Homo sapiens: one gene and its partner. The protein of the gene in region 1 interacts with the protein of each later gene in a biochemical or structural test. Each region holds a gene or a part of one and is shown on either strand. Other genes may lie near its edges.

Region 1 (3,746 bases):
GTGGCGTATGCCTATAATCCCAGCTACTCGGGAGGCTGAGGCAGGAGAATTGTTTGAACCCAGGAGGCGGAGATTGCGGTGAGCCGAGATTGCACCATTGCACTCCAGCCTGGGCAACAAGAGTGAAACTCCATCTCAAAAAAAAAAAAAAAAAAATACAGAAGTTACCCTGGCATGGTGACGAGCACCTGTAATCCCAGCTACTTGGGAGGCTGAGGCAGGAGAATCGCTTGAACCCAGGAGGCAGAGGTTGCAGTGAGCTGAGATCAAGCCACTGCACTCCAGCCTGGGCAACAGAACAAGACTCTGTCTCAAAGAAAAAAAAAAGAGTAAAAGGCAGGCATGCGTCCTGGAAACAGGTGCACACAGGACAAATGGCATGGAAGCAGAAAGGAGATAGGTACACAGGCCCCCAGCCCTCTCCTGCAACAGGAAACCAGTATAGACCCAGAGGACACAGTAGAGAGGAACCCACGGACATATACACATAGAGAGGTTCAGGTGCACACACCGAGAAAGTGCAGGCAGGTAGACAGCAAGAAGATAACTGCCCACAGAGAGGACGGGCACTGTCGCAAAAGGGACAGGTGAACACGCACAGAGGGATCTGGCTTGGTTACCCCCAGGGGCTCAGGTGGGCAGGGTGGGTCAGGAAGGCTTACCTCTCTGTTATTCCTCTCCAAAAATGCTACGGCTGTTGGGCTGACCATATGGTCCTTCATTTCCTGGAGGTAAGGACAGCATTAGGGAGGAAAGACACTCAGGCTGGGCGCGGTGGCTCACGCCTGTAATCCTAGCACTTTGAGAGACCAAGCCGGGTGGATCACCTGAGGTCAGGAGTTCGAGACCAGCCTGATCAACATGGTGAAACCCCGTCTCTACTAAAAACACAAAACTTAGCCGGGTATCGTGGCAGGCACCTGTAGTCCCAGCTACTCAGGAGACTGAGACACAAGAATCGCTTGAGCCTGGGAGGCGGAGGTTGCAGTGAGCCGAGATTGCAACACTGTACTCCAGCCTGGGCGACAGAGCGAGGCTCTGTCTCAAAAAAAAAAAAAAAAAAGAAAGAAAGAAAGAAAAAAAAACACACTCAAACCTTCCCCCACTCCCCGCCTGCAGGACCTTTCCTGACCTGGACTGCCTCTCGCATCCGCTCCACGAACACCTTTCTCTCCTGCAGGTCCCCGGCTGGGAGCTTGAACTTGCCTGGGTTGGCTTCCACTATACGTGGGCTGAGAGTCAAGGGTCAAGGCCGGAGCCAGATATCATCCCCGTCCCTAGGGGTCCAGCCCTACCCGAAGGTGGGCTGCCACCGCAATGGGCTCTCCCATGCCACCCTCTGCCACAAAGCCCCAGGATATCGATGGTCTCTTCCAGGTCCTCGAGGTCCCACTCGATGCTGCGCAGGCCATTCCGCAGCTCATTGGTCGTCCAGTCCAGCTCCTCGCGTCCGACCGCCGCGCTTTCCTGCAGGAGCTCGCACCAGCGCTGGTACAGCCCGCGGGCCGTGTTCACCGCCTTCTGCACCTCGCTGCGGGCAGGGGCACGGCGGGCGCGGCTGGGGGCAGGCGGTCCTCCCGCCTGCCTCTGCCCCCGACTGCAAACCCAAACGCATGGGGGACTCCGGAGACCCCTATATACCCCTGCGTGCGCCTCCCACTCTGCACCCCGACGGCCTTGCCCAGCCCGCCGGGCACGCTGGGGCCGGCACCCGGGCACTGGCTGGCTTGGGTACAGAGCACCCTCCGCCCTCCCCCGTCGTTGTCACTCACCCTCGGACTACAAAAAAGGGGTCTTCGAGAGACATGTCAGTCCCTTCCCCCCCAGGCCGAACCCCCCTCCCGGCCTGGGTTCGCGGGCTGGTTCCCTCCCAACCGAGGAGAACGCGCCGCCACCCCCGCCCCCGTCACGCCACCATCGAGAGCCGGACCGCCAGGGGAGAAAGAGAAGCCTCGGAGGCCCGACGTGCGGACACTTCCGCCCTCTCCTCAGCCATCTTGGTTGTGGGCAGAGGCAGCTTCCGGTGCACATGCCCCCGCCCCTTAGCCCTCTCGTGCCGCACCGTAGGGGGCGGTGTCGGAGTTCTGTCTGGGCCTATTCGGGTCCGAGTTCGGAATTTCGGTTCAAGGCCCAGTTCCTCGGATTGTTCCTGCGCAACTTCAGTTTCCCTTCCAGGCACGGGCAATGTAAATAATGATAGCCTCCCTCATCTCTGGCGGCTGGGTATTATGGCTGGGGAAGGGGCTCATTCGATTCGTTGAAGCTTTTCATGGACTCCCTGAGCTGGCACCTGGGAGATCGTCCCATCCCAGGGTCCCGAGTGTCAGGTTTGGCTAGGGTCTGGGGGAGAGGTGGTCCTCCCTTCTCCCTGCGGGGGCGCGGTGAGGAGCGGGCCTGCTCCTCCGGGGAGTTCTGCCGCATTCTCCCAATCTCTTTCCTGAGAAGTGGCGGAGTTGGGGGCACTTCGAGGTCGCCTTGGGGCGAGGTGGTCGTGAGGGGGTCCCAGATATGCCAGCAGCGGGGGGAGGTCACCTTTGAGAAAGTGCGTGGAGGTGGGTTTCTTCAGAAGCGCGGAGTCTTTCTGGGTGCGAGCCTGGGGGTAGCGGGTGGTGGCTTTGAGGATGGTCTCCAGGGGGGCCCTCTGTGTGTGGGGTCTCCGTCTGGGTAGGGGCCAGGAATATCAGCGGAGGGACTCAGGGTCGTCCCTATGTGTGACAGTGGCGCTGTGTGTTGGGGAGCTTCGGGAAAGCACTTTTTTTGAGTGATAGGGGGCCTGGTCTCCCCTGGAGGGTGGGCGGGTTATCTGAGGGAGTCCTCGGAGGGTCGCCCCCTTGCGCGTCAGAGTTGCTGCGTGGGGTCTCAGAGATAGCGCCTGGGCTGGGGAAATCATTGTGGGGTCTCCGTGGTAAGGTTAGCGGGGTGGGGACGGCCTGCGTCTTCGGCAGGTCGTCGCAGTCTGGCACCATCGTTGAATGGGGACGAGTTTGGGAAGGGTATTTTAGGGGGGAATAACTTTTGAGTTCCCAGCGTGCGGGGGAAGGGCGGGACGGGAGGGTGTCCCAAGGCCTGAGAAGATCAGTGTGGGGCAGGGGTCAGGAATAACCTGGGAGGGGGCCTTGTATGGGGGAAATAATTGGGAAGAGGAGAGATGGGATGAAGGGGGCCTCAGCGGGTCGTCTCCTGTGTATGCAGGGTCGTTCTGCAGCGTCTCTGGGAGATGGCGTCCCTGGGAGCCCTCAGGTCGCCCCTACCCGCTGCGGGGTGCTTTCCTGGCGTCACGCCTTCCTGGCCCCTGGAGGGAAGGAAGTGAAACTCTCCTCTTCCCCCACCCGGCTGGAATGCGAGTCAGGAAGCCTGGGGCTCCAGCCTGCTCCGGCTGCCCGGGTCGGGGATGGGGAGGGGCGTGGCCGGAGCGCAAAGCCCCGCCCCTCCGCGCCCCCCCCCCGGAAGCCCCGCCGCCGGCCGCTAAGGCGATCACGGGCCCTGTCCTAATATGGGCAACCGGAAGCGGCCCGCGCGACTGCCCTACGTCACTCCGTCCAAATTTAGTTGTGGAAGTCAGCGGGCGCTGGTGGCGGGAAGGCGCCGCGAGCCAGTGCGGGCGGAAAGGGGGCGGGGGGCGCACCACCCCTTAAAGGGCCCGCACCAGGAATGAATGGAGCCATTCGAACAATTCTGCATCCTATTTTTGGAGGAAGTGGAATTAGTATTTCTTGGAGAGACGGCGCGTAGCGGAGGGTAGGGCG
Region 2 (3,746 bases), on another chromosome or scaffold:
AACTCCTGACCTCAGGTGATCCACCTGCCTCGGCCTCCCAAAGTGCTGGGATTACAGGCATGAGCCACTGTGCCCAGCCTAGTGTCTGGGATGCTTCTTCAGATAGATACTTTCTTTTTTTTGAGACAGGGTCTTGCTCTGTTGCCCAAGTTGAAGTGAAGTGGTACAAGCACAGCTCACTGCAGCCTCGACCTCCCAGGCTCATGTGATCCTCCCTCCTCAGTCTCCTGAGTAGCTGGGACTACAGGCATACGCCATCTTGTCCAGCTAATTTTTATTTTTTATTTTTTTGTAGAGATGGAGTCCCACTATATTTCCCAGGTCAATCTTAAACTCTTAGGCTCAAGTGATCCTCCCACTTCAGCCTCCCAAAGTGCTGGGATTACAGGCATGAGCCACCATGCCTGGCCTTTTAAGTGCTTCAGATAAATACATTTCATTTTAAAATTTCATTTTGGGCTGGGCCAGGGACTCACACCCGTAATCCCAGTGCTTTGGTAGGATCCAGAAGGATCACATGAGCCTGGGATGTCGAGGCTGCAGTGAGCCATGATCATGCTACTGCCCTCCAGCCTGGGAGACAGAACAAGACATTGTCTCTAAAAAATAAACAACTAATCTCCTTTTGTCTTTTCTCTCCTTTGGTACTTAAGACAACCCTCTGAGAGTAGCTATTATCTCTATAGTAGTCTGACAACGAAGGCTCAAAGGAAAGGAGGTGAGAATGGAATAATGTCAGGACAAGACTGGAATCTGAGTCTCCCCCCTCTAAATCCCTTGCTGGTTTTCCCAACACAGGTGGGAGAATGGGGGCTGTGAGACTTTGGAGGGTGTGTCCCCGTGGGGATCACCTGTGGCTGAGATGAACTTGTTGTAGTTCTCATAGACCAGGGTCTGCATGTCGCTGTCTAGAGCCCGGATCTGCCGCACCATGTCCGTCTCACTGTCCATCAACTGGGCCAGAGGGCACTCTCTACGCAGCTGAAGAAGTTGGGTGGTTAGTGTTCGGGTCAGGAGGCATTCATGTCCCCCAGCCTTGCCTGCAGCTGATAGGCTTTCAGGGCAAGAAATCTCTGATCCCCACCCACCCCGCAAACCCCCGCCGGCTGTCAGGAATCCCAGGCAGGGGGCCCTAAGTGGCCTAGCTCAGGGGTTACTAGGTTCAACCGTGTTTGGTGTTTGTCAGCATTTGAAATCCTGGGGCTCGGCCTAAGCCCAGCCCCGCGCCTGTCAACGCTTGGGCCACGCCCCCAATTCCGGGCCTATCACATCAGCCCAGAAGACCTCAGATGCCGCATCACCTCAGGCCAGTCCAGTCCTACTCACATCCCCTCAGACGCCTCAGCTGCTCGTACTCCCTGGCCGAGGTTCGTCCTCTTATGAACACCTGCTCTCCTGAACCTCACAAAAAGTCGGAGGCATGATCTGGGGGAGCAATATAGCAGGGGCCTGGTTCCCTTCCCCCCTCCCCGCACCCCCCCACTCCCCGTGCGCACACACCTTGTCTAGGTAAACTTCCGGGTCGAAGTGCGCCCCGTTCAGATCAGTCGGGTCCAGGGGGTCGGGCCCCGCGGGGCGTCCCGCCGCCTCCCCTTCCGAGAGGCCGTAGTAAAGCTTCAGCATCCCGTGCGCCTTCCGCCGACGCTCCGGAGCCTCCCCCTCGGGCCCTTCTGGGGAGTCCCCAGGTCCAGACCCCGGGCTAGGCCCGGCGGCAGCTGCCGCCGCCATCGTTCCAACTGCAGCCCACGGGCGTGAGGCTGGAAAGGAAGGGGACGGGGAGGAGGCACTTCCGGGAGCCATAAAGTTGTTGTTGAAACGAGGCAGTCCTTCAGGTGAAACGTCCCCCTGCAGCCCTAGGTCCTTCGAGACTAGAGTTCCCCCGCACCTGTCTTCCCCGGGTGCAAAGGTTCCGGGAGAGCCCTGAATTCCCCCAGTTTCCTGGGTGGAAGCATTTTGTGGAACTGCCTGGGGTTGCTGCTGTCCCAGAAGGGGGACGGGTAGTGGCTCCCCAACCTGCACTCTCGCAGGCAAGGGGCCCACGGAATATGTGCCCAGATGCAATGGACGGATGCGGGACGTGAGGCCAGAGTAGAGTGTTCCTGGGATCCTGCCACTGGCAGTGGCTCAGTTTATCCCATTCCTAAAATTGGGGTACATACTTCACAGGGGGGCTACGAGGATTAAATGCATGTACACTATTCTGTACCACGCCTCTAGCGCAGTTCTTCTTAGGGCCTGGTCCTCTGACGTGCATCAGAATTGCCTTCAGGACTATCTGTGGCGCATTGTAAGTCTCTGCGCTGAGCTGCGCCGGGCACTCCCGTAATCCCAGCACTGGGGAGGTCGAGGCGGGTGGATCGCTTGAGCCCAGGAGTTCGAGACCAGCCTGGGCAAAATGGCGAAACTCCGTCTCTATAAAAAAAAAATACAGGCCAGGCGCGGTGGCACACGCCTGTAATCCCAGCACTTAGGGAGGCCGGGGGGGTGGGGGCGCGGATCACAAGGTCAGGAGTTGGAGACCAGCCTGGCCAATATGGTGAAACACCCGTCTCTACTAAAAATACAAAAATTAGCCGGGTGTGGTAGCGCGCGCCTGTAGTCCCAGCTACTCGGAGACTGAGGCAGAAGAATCGCTTGAACCCGGTAGGCAGAGGTTGCAGTGAGCCTAGATCTCGCCACTGCACTCCAGCCTGGATGACAGAGCGAGACTCTGTCTCAAAAAAAACAAAACAAAAATTAGCCAGGATGATGGCGCACGCCTGTGGTCCCAGCTACTCGGGAGGCTGAGGTGGGGGAACTGCTTGAGCTGCGATGGTGCCACTGCACTCCAGCCTGGGCAACAAAGCAAGAAAAAAAAAAAAAGACTCTGGGATTCTCTCAGATCTAGCTTCTTTTTAGAAAGTTCCCAAGTAGTTCTGATACACACTCACATTTAAGAACCCCTAAGGCCGGGCACAGTGGCTCACGCCTGTAATCCCAGCACTTTGGAAGGCAGAGGTGGGAGAATTGATTGAGCCCAGGAGGTCAATACTGGCCTGGACAACGTAGTGAGACCCGCCCCCTATTATTGAAAAAAAAAGGACAGACTCAGCAGAGCTTAAGTGACTGATGGAATGTGCTGAGTGAAGGGTTAGGTGGAAATGTGGAGGATAACTCTCAGGGTTCTCTTTTCCTTTTTTTTTGAGACTGGGTTTTGCTCTTCATCCAGGCTGGAGTGCAGTGGTGCTATCTTTGGCTCACTCCAACCTTGACCTCCCCTCCCACCTCAGCCTCCTGAGCTGCTCTCCCAGGGTTCTGACTTGGACAAAAGTGCAGCTGTGCACAAAGGTGAAGAGCTCATGAAGACAGGGAACGATCTGGAGTTCAGATTAGGACACAGAGTTGGAATGGAGGAAAAAGAGAAAAAGACTTTCTTCATCAAAGTGGCCCTTGAAACATTACTTATGAAGGGCTGTTGGAGGAAGGTTGGAATGGAAAAACTCACTGGTTTACTTGTTCTTTGCCAGGGATCCTGCAGGCCAAACACAGCTCACCACCTGTTTTCATATGGTCTGTGAGCTAGAATGGTTTTCTCATTTGTAAATGGTTGGGAAAAAAATAACATTTCATGACACCTGAAAATCATATGCAATTCATATCCCATTTTCCGTAACTCTTATTGGAACACAGTCACGCCCATTTTTTAACATATGATCTATGGCTGCTTAGTTGAGGCTAGGCACGGTGGCTCATGCCTGTAATCCCAG

Evidence for each region. Proteins that work in one complex are often made in the same cells at the same time.
Region 2: the proteins of STX10 (region 1) and VPS51 interact in a biophysical measurement, tested with the Homo sapiens proteins (one study listed by IntAct).

Annotation. Positions count from the first base shown.
Region 1 is NC_000019.10:13,148,367-13,152,112, forward strand, and holds the start of STX10 (syntaxin-10), read right to left. Parts: upstream 2,010-3,746; 5' UTR 1,808-2,009; coding exon 1,773-1,807; intron 1,532-1,772; coding exon 1,362-1,531; intron 1,228-1,361; coding exon 1,133-1,227; intron 726-1,132; coding exon 663-725; intron 1-662. UniProt on the Homo sapiens protein: SNARE involved in vesicular transport from the late endosomes to the trans-Golgi network.
Region 2 is NC_000011.10:65,094,233-65,097,978, reverse strand, and holds the start of VPS51 (vacuolar protein sorting-associated protein 51 homolog), read right to left. Parts: upstream 1,766-3,746; 5' UTR 1,729-1,765; coding exon 1,501-1,728; intron 982-1,500; coding exon 852-981; intron 1-851. UniProt on the Homo sapiens protein: Acts as a component of the GARP complex that is involved in retrograde transport from early and late endosomes to the trans-Golgi network (TGN).